Linked DNA regions of Homo sapiens: region 2 is linked to region 1. The links come from fine-mapping of genetic effects on gene expression. Tissue or cell type: testis. Region 1 holds a variant in brackets; the other region holds the start of a gene. All regions are shown on one strand. Distances are between the middles of the regions.

The links. PIP is the estimated chance that this variant, and not a neighbour inherited with it, causes the effect.
Region 2: LINC00466 starts here. The variant in region 1 is fine-mapped to the expression of LINC00466 in testis (GTEx, PIP above 0.99).

What each region holds. Positions count from the first base shown.
Region 1 is chr1:63,161,786-63,167,510 of GRCh38, reverse strand. LINC00466 (long intergenic non-protein coding RNA 466) reads left to right here. Exons shown (of 12, transcript NR_038252.3): 8 at 3,156-3,267; 9 at 4,829-4,964. Among named protein-coding and RNA genes, the nearest start is that of LINC01739, 150 kb to the right of the region's middle. The variant A/G (reference allele first, on the strand shown) is at 3,539.
Region 2 is chr1:63,314,699-63,320,003 of GRCh38, reverse strand. LINC00466 (long intergenic non-protein coding RNA 466) reads left to right here and starts at 2,747. Exons shown (of 12, transcript NR_038252.3): 1 at 2,747-2,946; 2 at 3,917-4,055. RefSeq lists a silencer at 2,422-2,601.

The DNA.
Region 1 (5,725 bases):
GGGAATCAATAGGAAAAGGAGGGTAGGGCATTTGGGGCAGAGGGATAGCATGAATCAAAGCTTTGTGAGTGAATGGTTAGGTCAGGGGTTCCTAACCTTTTTTGTGCCAGAACCCCTTCGGCCATCTAGTGAAGCCCACTGAACCTTTCTCAAAATAATGTTTTTAAATGAATAAAATGAAATACATAAGACTATGAAGGGAACCAGTTATATATTCTATATATGGCTATCAAAAGATAAAAATCTCAAAGATATGATATAGTAATATATATCCTTCATTATTAATGCATTAAATAACAAGATCTAGTGGTGAGAAGTATTGATGAACATAAGTGCTATTTCTGTAACAATTAATTATAAAGTGAGATGAAAATATCTGTGATTTCTAAGAGTGACAGAGTCATAGATACTGTTCATGTTACAGTGATTACATTAGCAGATAGTAAAACTAAAGAAGTAAACTTGCCCCATTCAAGTTCACATATTCAAGGGTCTTTGGATGCCAAGTTAAGAACCCTTAGGTTTAGGGTAAGGCTCATGTTCTTTTATTTATGTTGCCAATCCTCTGGTAAAGGAAGTGCTAGTGAACAAAGATAGAATAGTAGCAGCAGCAGTAATAGTAATAGTAGTAATAAGAGTAGAAACAGTAAAAGAAGTAGCAGACGCCACAGTAGTAGTAGTAGTCATATTCATAGTCATAGCAGCAGTAGTGATGGTAGTAATAGGTACTGAGTACTTACTACCTGCCAAGAACTCTTCTAAGTGCTTTACAAATAAAGGGCAGAAGTGAGGCAAGCTCTCTATAAAGAGGAAAGAAGGGCCGGGTGCAGTGGCTCACGCCTGTAATCCCAGCACTTTGGGAGGCCGAGATGGGTGGATCATTTGAGGTCAGTAGTTTGAGACCATCCTGGCCAATATGGTGAAACCCCATCTCTACTAAAAATACAAAAGTTAGCTGGGTGTCGTGGTGTACACCTGTAATCCCAGCTATTTGGGAGGCTGAGGCAGGAGAATCGCTTGAACCCGGGAGGCGCAGTTTGCGGTGAGCCAAGTTCATGCCACTGCACTGCAGTCTGAGCAACAGAGTGAGACCCTGTCTCAAAGAAAAAAAACAAAAAACAAAAAAAAAGGAAAGAAATCCGAATAATCCACAGACTAAGTAGATAACCCAAATAACTAAAAATTCATCATGTTTTTAATGTATTAAGTATTTTTAACTTTCTGGAAAAAGAAATAGAAGAGTTTGACTCTGTTTGAGTTTGGAAATGATTACAATCGGGTCTAAAATTCTAGAATTTTTTGAAAGTCATAGGTGTTGAAATGCTGAATTACAGCTTTGTAGCTCATGTGAATATGTATGTTTTTAATAGTATTCATAAGAATATAGGATATAGTATAGCACAGCTTAAGTATTCTATAGCCTGCATGAAAAATGTATAAAATTATAAATTTTGGGGGAAAGTTATTAATCTGGTTAAAGTGAATTTTACAGTATTTTTGTACTTTGAGAACCCGAACTTTTTATTATATTCTTTTTTCATTTTAGCTCCAACTAATCATTTTCTCAGAATTAAAGAGATGCTTTCTCAGTACCATCAGTTTAGCATTAAAATATTCTGAGCCCTCCCATGTATCTTTTCCTTCCACAACTGTATCATAAGTTCTTTGAGGACAAAGAGATCTGTCATATATTTTGCATTTGTCACAGCACCTGGGATTGTGGGCACTTCAGTTGGTAGATGAATTACTTGTAAAATAGTTTGAAAGGCTGGGCACATTGGCTCATGCCTGTAATCCCAGCACTTTGGGAGGCTGAGCTGGGCAGATCACCTGAGGTCAGGAGTTCGAGACCAGCCTGGCCAATATGGCGAAACCCCAGCTCTACTAAAAATACAAAACTTAGCCAGGCATGGTGGTGCATGCCTGTAATCCTAGCTACTCAGGAGGCTGTGACAGGAGAATCACTTGAACCCAGGAGACAGAGGTCGCAATGAGCCAAGATTGTGCCACTGCACTCTAGCCTGGGCAACAGAGCGAGACTCCATCTCAAAAATAAATAAATTAATTAATTAAATAAAATAGTTTGAAAAAGTCCATTTTCAATCAAGACTCCATGTTCAATATTATTCTAAGTATCTAGACAATTCTATGCCTTCCACATCAATGTCATGAGATTTGCTGCTTTTGTATCTGTTTATATGGTGATCTGGAACTATTTCTGCTCTCATATATTGAAAATTGTTTAAGACACATGCATTATTTTCCTCTAATTGAAGGCACAAGCAGAAATGATTAAAGAGTAAATATTTGCGGTGAGCCCAGGTCTGAATGGCGTACAGTTTCTTTGGTATGCAGATTCTTTTGCAGTTCAGTATCCTTCAGTCAGTAAACTTGTACTGAATGCCTCCTGTGGTCTAGGACAGATCAATTCAGGTACAGAGAGACAAAGCAACGTTAGTGAACCTGAGAGAAGGCATAGCGAGGGTGGGGCTCCACATGTTGTTTGCTTTTGCTGAATTTTAGTGTGCACTGAGTGACAGGTAAAGAGCTGGAGAGGTAGGAAAGAGACAGAGATGATGGGGCTGTGAGAAATGGAGAAGATGCCTCCCTGGAGGCCCTTAGACACTGAGTGGGTATTTTTGGGGGGTAAGTGGGCATAAGGGAAGAGAGAGACTTAAGGAACTGCTATCCTTGGAAATTCTGCCTAATGGCCTGATAATCAAAACATTTATCCAACTCACTATGGGCTCCAAAAGAGATTTTGTATAAAGAGACAAGAAATTTATCTTCTGATTTGATTATCTATAAAATAAAATAAGAGTGGATGTTCATATATTTCTGCTTGGTATAGAGACAGCTCCTATAGAGAATAAACTTAATGAAAAAGAATGCTTTTTTGTAAAAGAAATCATCTTTTACTTTTATTGTCTAAGTAATAACAGGTAGTATTTTTTGAGCATCTACTATGTGCCACCATTGATGTTAAGGGCTTTAAAATATTATTGTCACTATAATTATGATTATTAGCAACTAATGTTTATTCAATATTTACTATGTGCCAGGATCTGTTCTAAGAGTTTCATATGTTTTAACTCATCTAATTTTAACAATCTTATGAGGTATGCACTTTATTTTCCTTGTTTTCAAATGTTGAGACTAAGGTACAGAGAGGTCAAGTAACTTGCCCAAAGTCACACAACTATCAAGGAGCAGAGCTGAGGTTTGATGTCACAGAGGGGTCAAGATACAGTCATATTTATTAAACAGGTAAGGTTGGCCGGGCACGGTGGCTTATACTGGTAATCCCAGCACTGATCACCTGAGGTCAGGAGTTTGAGATCAGCCTGGCCAACATGGTGAAACTCCATCTTTACTAAAAATACAAAAATTAGTTGGGTGCGGTGGCGGGTGTCTGTAATCCCAGCTATTCGGGAGGCTGAGGTGGGAGAATCGCTTGAACCTGGGAGGCGGAGGTTCCAGTGCGCTGAGATCACACCACTGCACTCCAGCCTGGGTGACAGAGCAAGACTCCGTCTCA[A/G]CAAAAACAACAACAAAAAGATAATGTTATATAACATGTCTACTAAGTGCCTATCACATAATAGATATCCCTAAATTTTTTAATTTTTGTCTCCTCCATCTTCCTTCTTGTCCCCTCCTCAACTTACTAAAAGAATGACTTTAATTTACAGGAAGAGCCCACACAAATACTCACACTGCTTTTTGTTTTTCTCATCATCATTCTTAGGCTTTTTGGTAAAGGTGCTTATATGATGTGAAACACAACGAAAGAAAAAAAATTCCTTTTCTGAAAAAAAGCAAATGCTTCATTTATTTACCTTAAACAATTTAGTGGCTAACAAATGTAGCTTTTTTTTTTTTTTTTTTGAGACGGAGTTTTGCTCTTCTTGCCAAAAATGTAGGTTTAAAACAGTATATTGGAAGTCCTAGAAGATGAGGGAAGGAGGGCAAGGAACAAACATTGATTGAAAACCTCTTAGCTCCTACGTAGAGTGCTAGAAACTTTATGTATGATTGCTTATTTATTGTTCACAACAACCCCTGTAAGGTATTGCTTATCAGCCCTATTTTGTGGATAGAATGTCCAAGGCTAAGAGAATTCAGACAGCTTCTTTGTTAGGAAGGGATGGAGCCCAGAATTCTCTGATGTCTATAGTGCTGTTGCCTCCCTCTCAGACCCAGGAACCATGTCTTTAGAATATTGATCGCAGGAAGTTTCCAGCTTGGGAATTCCAACAAGAAAGAGATGATGCTAAAGGATTTACTAATGCCGAATTTTACTGGCAAAAAATTACTCTTTTATTACAAACAAATTCCTGAACAACACAGCTGTTTCCGCTTTTGAATCCTTGTTGGCTATGTTAAGCAGCATTTGGCTGAATGCTAATCCTTAGATTAAGCATCTCTTAATCAATTTGTCCATCATTACTTTGAGCTTACAAACTGTTGTTCCATGAATAGTGGTTGTCTTTAAGAGGCAGTAAGAAAAGTATCAGCGTCATTATTTGCTGTTTCATACCCCTGTGACAGTACTCACAGTCTGTGATGGGTGACAGAGGAAGCGGGGCAAAGGGGAATGGTTATGATTTCATTTCCACAGGCAGGTGACTGGTGGGCATATAGTAATATTGCTAAGGGCCTGTGCTTTGGCTTAAGGTTAGTTTCTGTTTTCATGCTTGCTTCTCCGACTTGACTCCCTGTTTGAGGCGAAGGAAAAACATTCATGTCATCTGCATCATCTGCATCCTGTTGGCATAACATTGTGCATTGAAGGATTAATCAACATAACAGTTTTTTTCATTTTTTTCAGCCTACTTCATGCTTTGAACAGAAGAGTTTTATCAGTTTTAAATGTTTCTTCATTTCTATACCTTCTTTTATCTGAGGAGCTTAAGCCATTTTGTAGAGGCATTAAGTATTGCCTCAGTCTTAATATGTGAGACAAGGTAAGTAATTCTTTTATTTTATTATACTTTAAGTTTTAGGGTACATGTGCACAATGTGCAGGTTAGTTACATATGTATACATGTGCCATGTTGGTGTGCTGCACCCAGTAACTCATCATTTAGCATTAGGTATATCTCCTAATGCTATCCCTCCCCCCTCCCCCCACCCCACAACAGGCCCCGGTGTGATGTTCCCCTTCCTGTGTCCATGTGTTCTCATTGTTCAATTCCCACCTATGAGTGAGAACATGCGGTGTTTGGTTTTTTGTCCTTCTTGCAGCTCTTGCCAATAGCACGTGAACCCAGTGATGGGGAACTGTGTTTGTGTCCTTCCATACAGGGTGCTTGGTAAATACCTATAGTTGAGCCTTTATTATTATTATTATTATACTTTAAGTTTTAGGGTACATGTGCACAACATGCAGGTTTGTTACATATGTATACCAACATGGCACATGTATACATATGTAGAGCCTTTTCTTCCCACTTTAACTGAGGGTAGGAAATCAGATCTCATGTTGGCCATAGCCAAGGCTCGTTTTCTCCAGATTCATCCCTACCCTTCTTCCCTTTCCCAGCACCTCTGGTAGTTCAAAAAGGAGCAGAGTAAAGAGAGTCAGTCCTAAACCCAGTTCCTATGGACTGCTAATTCTAACATTTGTGACATTTTGGGCTCAGCTTTCTAATTTGTAATCATGGTCTACAATTTCAATCCCATCTGTCTGATAGTCCCTGTCTTCCTCCTATTTCTCCTGCTCAGC
Region 2 (5,305 bases), 150 kb before region 1:
GAGATCTATTGTGCTAATCTCTTGTTCAATCAGTGTTACCATCTGATGCTGGGTCCGGCCCTTACAGAAACTTTTCGACTCGATTAGCTAAATGATGAGACGTGCACAACCTACTGGCTGCGGCCCCGACGTCCCGCGCCCGCGCCGGCCTAATATCGATTTCCAGCGGAGGCAGAGGATTTTTCCGCGGCCGCTCTCGGCTCAGGAACCGGCCGCCGGCTTTCTCCCTCCAGGCGGACCATAGCGCCTGCACAACCTCCGGGGGCGGGAAGGAGGCGAAGCGGCGGCCGGGGAGGGCGACAGGAAGGTTCCTGCTGGCCTTGACGCAGGAGGCCGCCCCAGCGGAAGGGTCCGATCCCGACGCGGTGCAGGGTCCTGCCGGAGACCGGCTAGATGTCGGGCTAAATAAATTGTTTGCCGCGTAGTTGCAGTTTGCAGCTAAAAGCTCACAGGTCGTCAGTTACCGCCAAGCTGTAGGACAGAGACGGAAGAAGCGAGACAGATACAGAGAGAAAGTGAGACACATGTAGTGGGGGGAAGAAAATGTGATAAAGGGTGTATGTGGATAAAAAGTTTCTGAGTCTCAAAGGGTTATTGGAGAGATAGAGGGAGAATGAGTAGACACACACACGCAATTATGAGTTTGAGTGACTCTTTGAGTCTCAACAAGCGAACTTCCCAGGAGAGATTTAAAAAGGAAGATGGCAGCCAGCTGCCTCACCTGCTCAAATGTTTGAAATGTTTCAACCAAAGGAGAATGGAATGAAACCCCTTCGGTTCCTCTGGAGCGGGCAGAGTACATGGTACCCCGCTGGGAAAGCCACCTGGACGCGGTGGGAATGAGGGGTGCGGGGAGTGGGGATCTAGGTTCTAGCAACAGGAGGCAAGAAGAATGGAGTCCGGATCGATAGGAAGGAAATTGAGACGTCTCCAGGGGAGGGGAGATTTAGTGTGTGCGTCCAGTGGGGGGATGGGGGGGAAGAAATGGATAGAAAAATTTATGATGGAGAAAGGGAAATTAATTACAGCTCATTTTGGGTTCTTAGGTGGTCAACACTGGAGGAGGGGCACGGTTAGAGTGCGGAAGGCGGGAATTGCCCACCTACCCCTCACCAGGCCCAAGTGAACCCATATGCCTCTTTTCTCCTCTTTTAAGTCAGAGACAGTGCCAGTGGCTTGAATAAGTCGTTGGCGCGATGTGAGATAGAATCATCATGCCCGCGCGCGGGTGCACTTTTCTTACAATACGGGGAGTTGGGACCAGGTTCCGCGGAGTGAAGGGCGCGTCCCCCACCAAGAGTAGTTACTCTTTGTCCAAGAGGGAGCAAAACGTGGGTGGGACTATTAGAAAAATTCCCCTCCTTTCTCCCCAACACCCCCGCGCCCGCAACAATCAAAGTCTGCTGCTTCTTGAAAATCTTCATAGATTTGTTAAACTATTACCGGCCTCTTTGTCTGGATGGCCGCCACCAAGGAAGGTGGGAAAGGGCAGAGGTGGTACCCAAGGCCCCAACCCACCCAGATTACTTCCATTTCCCAAAGCGGGGGATTTTCAACTCTCTTACCCACCACTACCCCCTTGTATACCTCTCCGGATCTTTTCGGGGTGGAAAAAAAGAGGCTATTTTAATGTTCTTGTTTGGATTTGCATCTCAAAACTTCATTTATTTTCAAGATGTCTGCCACTCAGGGTCCACGCCAAGGCGTGCCTGTAAATGGCGAGAGACCAAAAGGAAAGGAGGAGAGAAAGAGGAAGAGAGAGAGGATGGTTTCGAATTTATTTATATTGGAAATATATAAACATCCATTCTGTAAAAGGCAACACGTTTAATTAACGATGAGAGAGCAGTTAGGGGCAGAAAGCTAGTAAAATTGTGTGATAAATTTATGGCATTGTTAGCGTGCTTTTAATTATGGCTATTATGTTAATTATTTCACATTAGCATGGAGTTATCAGCAGCATGTCGGATTTAATAAAAACGAGCCTTTCTCTCGAAAATTGTTCTTTTCATCCACGAGGAGAAAGGTCCTGGACAGGATCGGGGCTTAAAAATGACTTGGCATTGAAAGCCGGAGTCTTTCTGACACCGTTTGGAGCGATGCGGCCAGGCCCGGCTGTCCGCTGGGTCCCTCCAGGCTACCGGCAGCTCGAGGAGGAGCCCAGGGCTGGGTTTTTAGGAATTCACCATTTTCACCCCCTTCGGAGCCGACACTTCATCATGCGAGATCATTCTGTCAAACAATATGATGCTGCTCATTTTTATCTGTCCCGCTTTACAAAATCCCCATTCAGCCGGCCGAGGAGCAACAAAAGCCTCTGAGCAGCTCCGCAGCCACTGGCGGCCACAGCCTCCCCGGCGCGCGAGAAAGGCGAGAGGGGCCGAGGAAAGCAGGCGGCGGGCGCGCGCCCCTCTCCGCCGGAGGGAACGCTGCCTGCCGGGGCCTGCCAGCCCAGGTGTCGGGTCCTCGGGTGTGGCCCGGGCGGGACACGCCTCCCTCAGGCCCGCGCCCGCCCTCGGCCTCCCTGCAGGCGCCGGGCGAAAGCCCCCAATCCCTCCCCTCAAGCGACTCGCCCACCCAGGCCACATCGATTCTTTAATCACCGCCGATCGATTTATTGGGAGCAAATAAATAGACCGTTTTGGAAACGTTTCAATTGCTGGCTTGACGGTTGGGGCGCTGACGCGGGAGGGCGGGCAGGGCCGTGGGGCGCGCGCGGGAAGGGACTTGTGGGAAGGAAGGGAGCGGAAAGGCCGAGCGCCACCCGCCCCGGGAGTCTCCAGAGCAGCGCGCGGGGCAGACCTCCTCGGGTCCTCCGGCGCTTCGGTCTCCGGAGACGCCCGGCCTCCTGAAGGGTTCGGCTTGTCCTCCTCTGGCGCTCAGCTCCCTCTGGCGGCCGGGCTGGCAGGACCTCAGCGCCCAGCCCTTCCGTCTTGTTACGTCCAGGCAAGTTGGCCTGGCTTTCGGATGCCTCTGGACAGTCCCCGTCCAGGCCCGCGACCCAGCCCGAATGGAGGCCCCGGGGCCCACAGAGCGCGGCCTCCCAGGCCTTCCAGCCCTGGCTGCGGACGCCGCAGCCTTCTCGCCCCTGGGCCGGACGCGGCCTTCCTGCCCAAGACCACTGGGGCCCCCGCCCCTCCCGGGACAGGGCTGTGGACAGGCCAGCTGCTGCCTTATTTTTAGCGCCATTCCATTCGCGCGGTTATATTTAACTCGACCCACTCCTCCGAGGAGGTCGCTCGGACATCGAATTCTCCACATCGCAGCTTGGGCCTGCCCGCCTTGCCTCAGGGGTAGTTCCTCAAGGGACAGATTGGAAAACCCCTGCTTAAGAATCCTTGACATATCTGGAGCTTGGAGAGGACGGGACTGGGGGAGAGATCTGGTTCTAGGGGCAGTGGCCACCGCGCCTGCAGTGCACTGCGTGGGGATTCCGCCTTGTGTGGGGCGGGGGAGGGGAGGAAGGGACAGGATCAGTCCTGTGGGAAGGATTCTCTGCGGGGAGTATTGTGTCCATTTCCTACTTCTGCATGACTCAGAACACTAGGTGACCTGGAAGACCTCTCACGACCCTGCCCTTGGAAAAGTTTATCATTTAGCGTGAGTGCAGGAATCCCCTCTTCTCTACCCTCCAGTGCACCCAACGGGATATTTGATTTCAATGGTATGTTAGCTCCTTAGTTCCAGCCCAGTCTTCCCTTGGCAAAATCTTAAAAAGACCATGCCAAAGGCTCACTCACATCCTGGGGAAAGGACCCACTTGGATAACATACGGAAACACCATTGTGATACACGCTTTATTCACACAGAATGTCAGTTAGCAAACAATGCAGAAGTCATGTACTAAAGGTACACTAACAGATGTGACATGGATCGCGGATATCGAAACACATTTTTTTGTTTTTCTTTGAGACAGGGTCTCACTCTGTGTCTCAGGCTGGAGTACAGTGGTGCAATTGTAGATGGCTGCAGCCCTCGACCTCCTGGGCTCAAGTGATCCTCCTGCCTTAGCCTCTCGAGTAGCTGGGAGTACAGATGCACACCACCACACCCAGGTAATTTTTTATTTTTATTTTTTGTAGAGATGGGATCTCGCTCTGTTGCCCAGGCTAGTCTCAAGCTCTTGGCCTCAAACGATCCTCCCACCTCAGCCTCTCAAAGTGCTGGGATTAAAGGTGTGAACCATCCTGCCAGGCCAAAACACATTTTAAAAATTTAAATTCTTCTAACATTTTTAAAGAAACAAGTTTTCCTTGGGTCAAAGCTGCCTTTTTTGGTAACTCTCATTTTAATCCAAAATTTCTTGGATTTAAGTCATACCCACAGCTGAATTCAGGGGGAGAGGATATATAAGTATACAATATATATTTATTTACTCATTTATTCCTTATTAGTAATTTATTGAACTGTTGTAGACCTGGAAAGTACCAGGAATGAAAAGAAGAATTAAACCCAAGGTTCCTTAAGGAAGAACCAGGCAAGAGAATCAGTGTTTGTCATGCAGGTTGATAGGTGCCATGGCAAGGGGAAACAGCGCAGAGGAGGGCCTTTCTCACTGGGTAGGGATAGAGAAAGTGTGAAGCCTTCAATACGGAAGATGCTACTGACCAGCTACCTCTGACTTTAGGGGTTTTCAGGGGAGATTGGGGAGAAGTAAGTTAGAACCCGGGATACTTTGGGAAAAGAAAGTGCTAAGTTGGATGCCTAATGGTACTTCTGGACAGCCAGAAAGTACTTGGTCTCAAGGGAAATGGACAATAGATGTATGATAAGGAAACAGAAAGGGATGGAAGAAGAGAGAAGGGAAATGTAAAAATTGAAATTTGCTTAGACATTTTGTCTAGGTATAGTACATTTAGACTACATGGAAGTATTTGACTAACAAACACATGGAAGAAATTTAAAAGGGAACGTAGATAAAGGAAAAGATCCTTTGAAAAGAAAATATTCAAAAGGCTAGTTGTTAGACCCAGCTGTTTTTCTAACCTTATCGTATTCATCAAGGGCCAGACACTGGAACCACAAAGGTGAGTAAGAAGATAGATTCCACCTTTAGAATGTTAATTCCAGAAGGGCAGGAATTTTTATCTGTTCACTGTTGTATCCCTAGCCTCCAGCCAAGTACTAGTGGTGTAGGGGTGGAGGTGTGGCTCAATAAATATTGCTTGAATAACCCGATCAGTAAGACACATTCTCACTCTAATGGGGGACTTATTCAGGGAAGTCCATAGCTAAAATGTAGTGTGATGAGTTATAAATATATGATAGAATGTTACAGGAGCGCAAAAGAAACATAACTAACTCT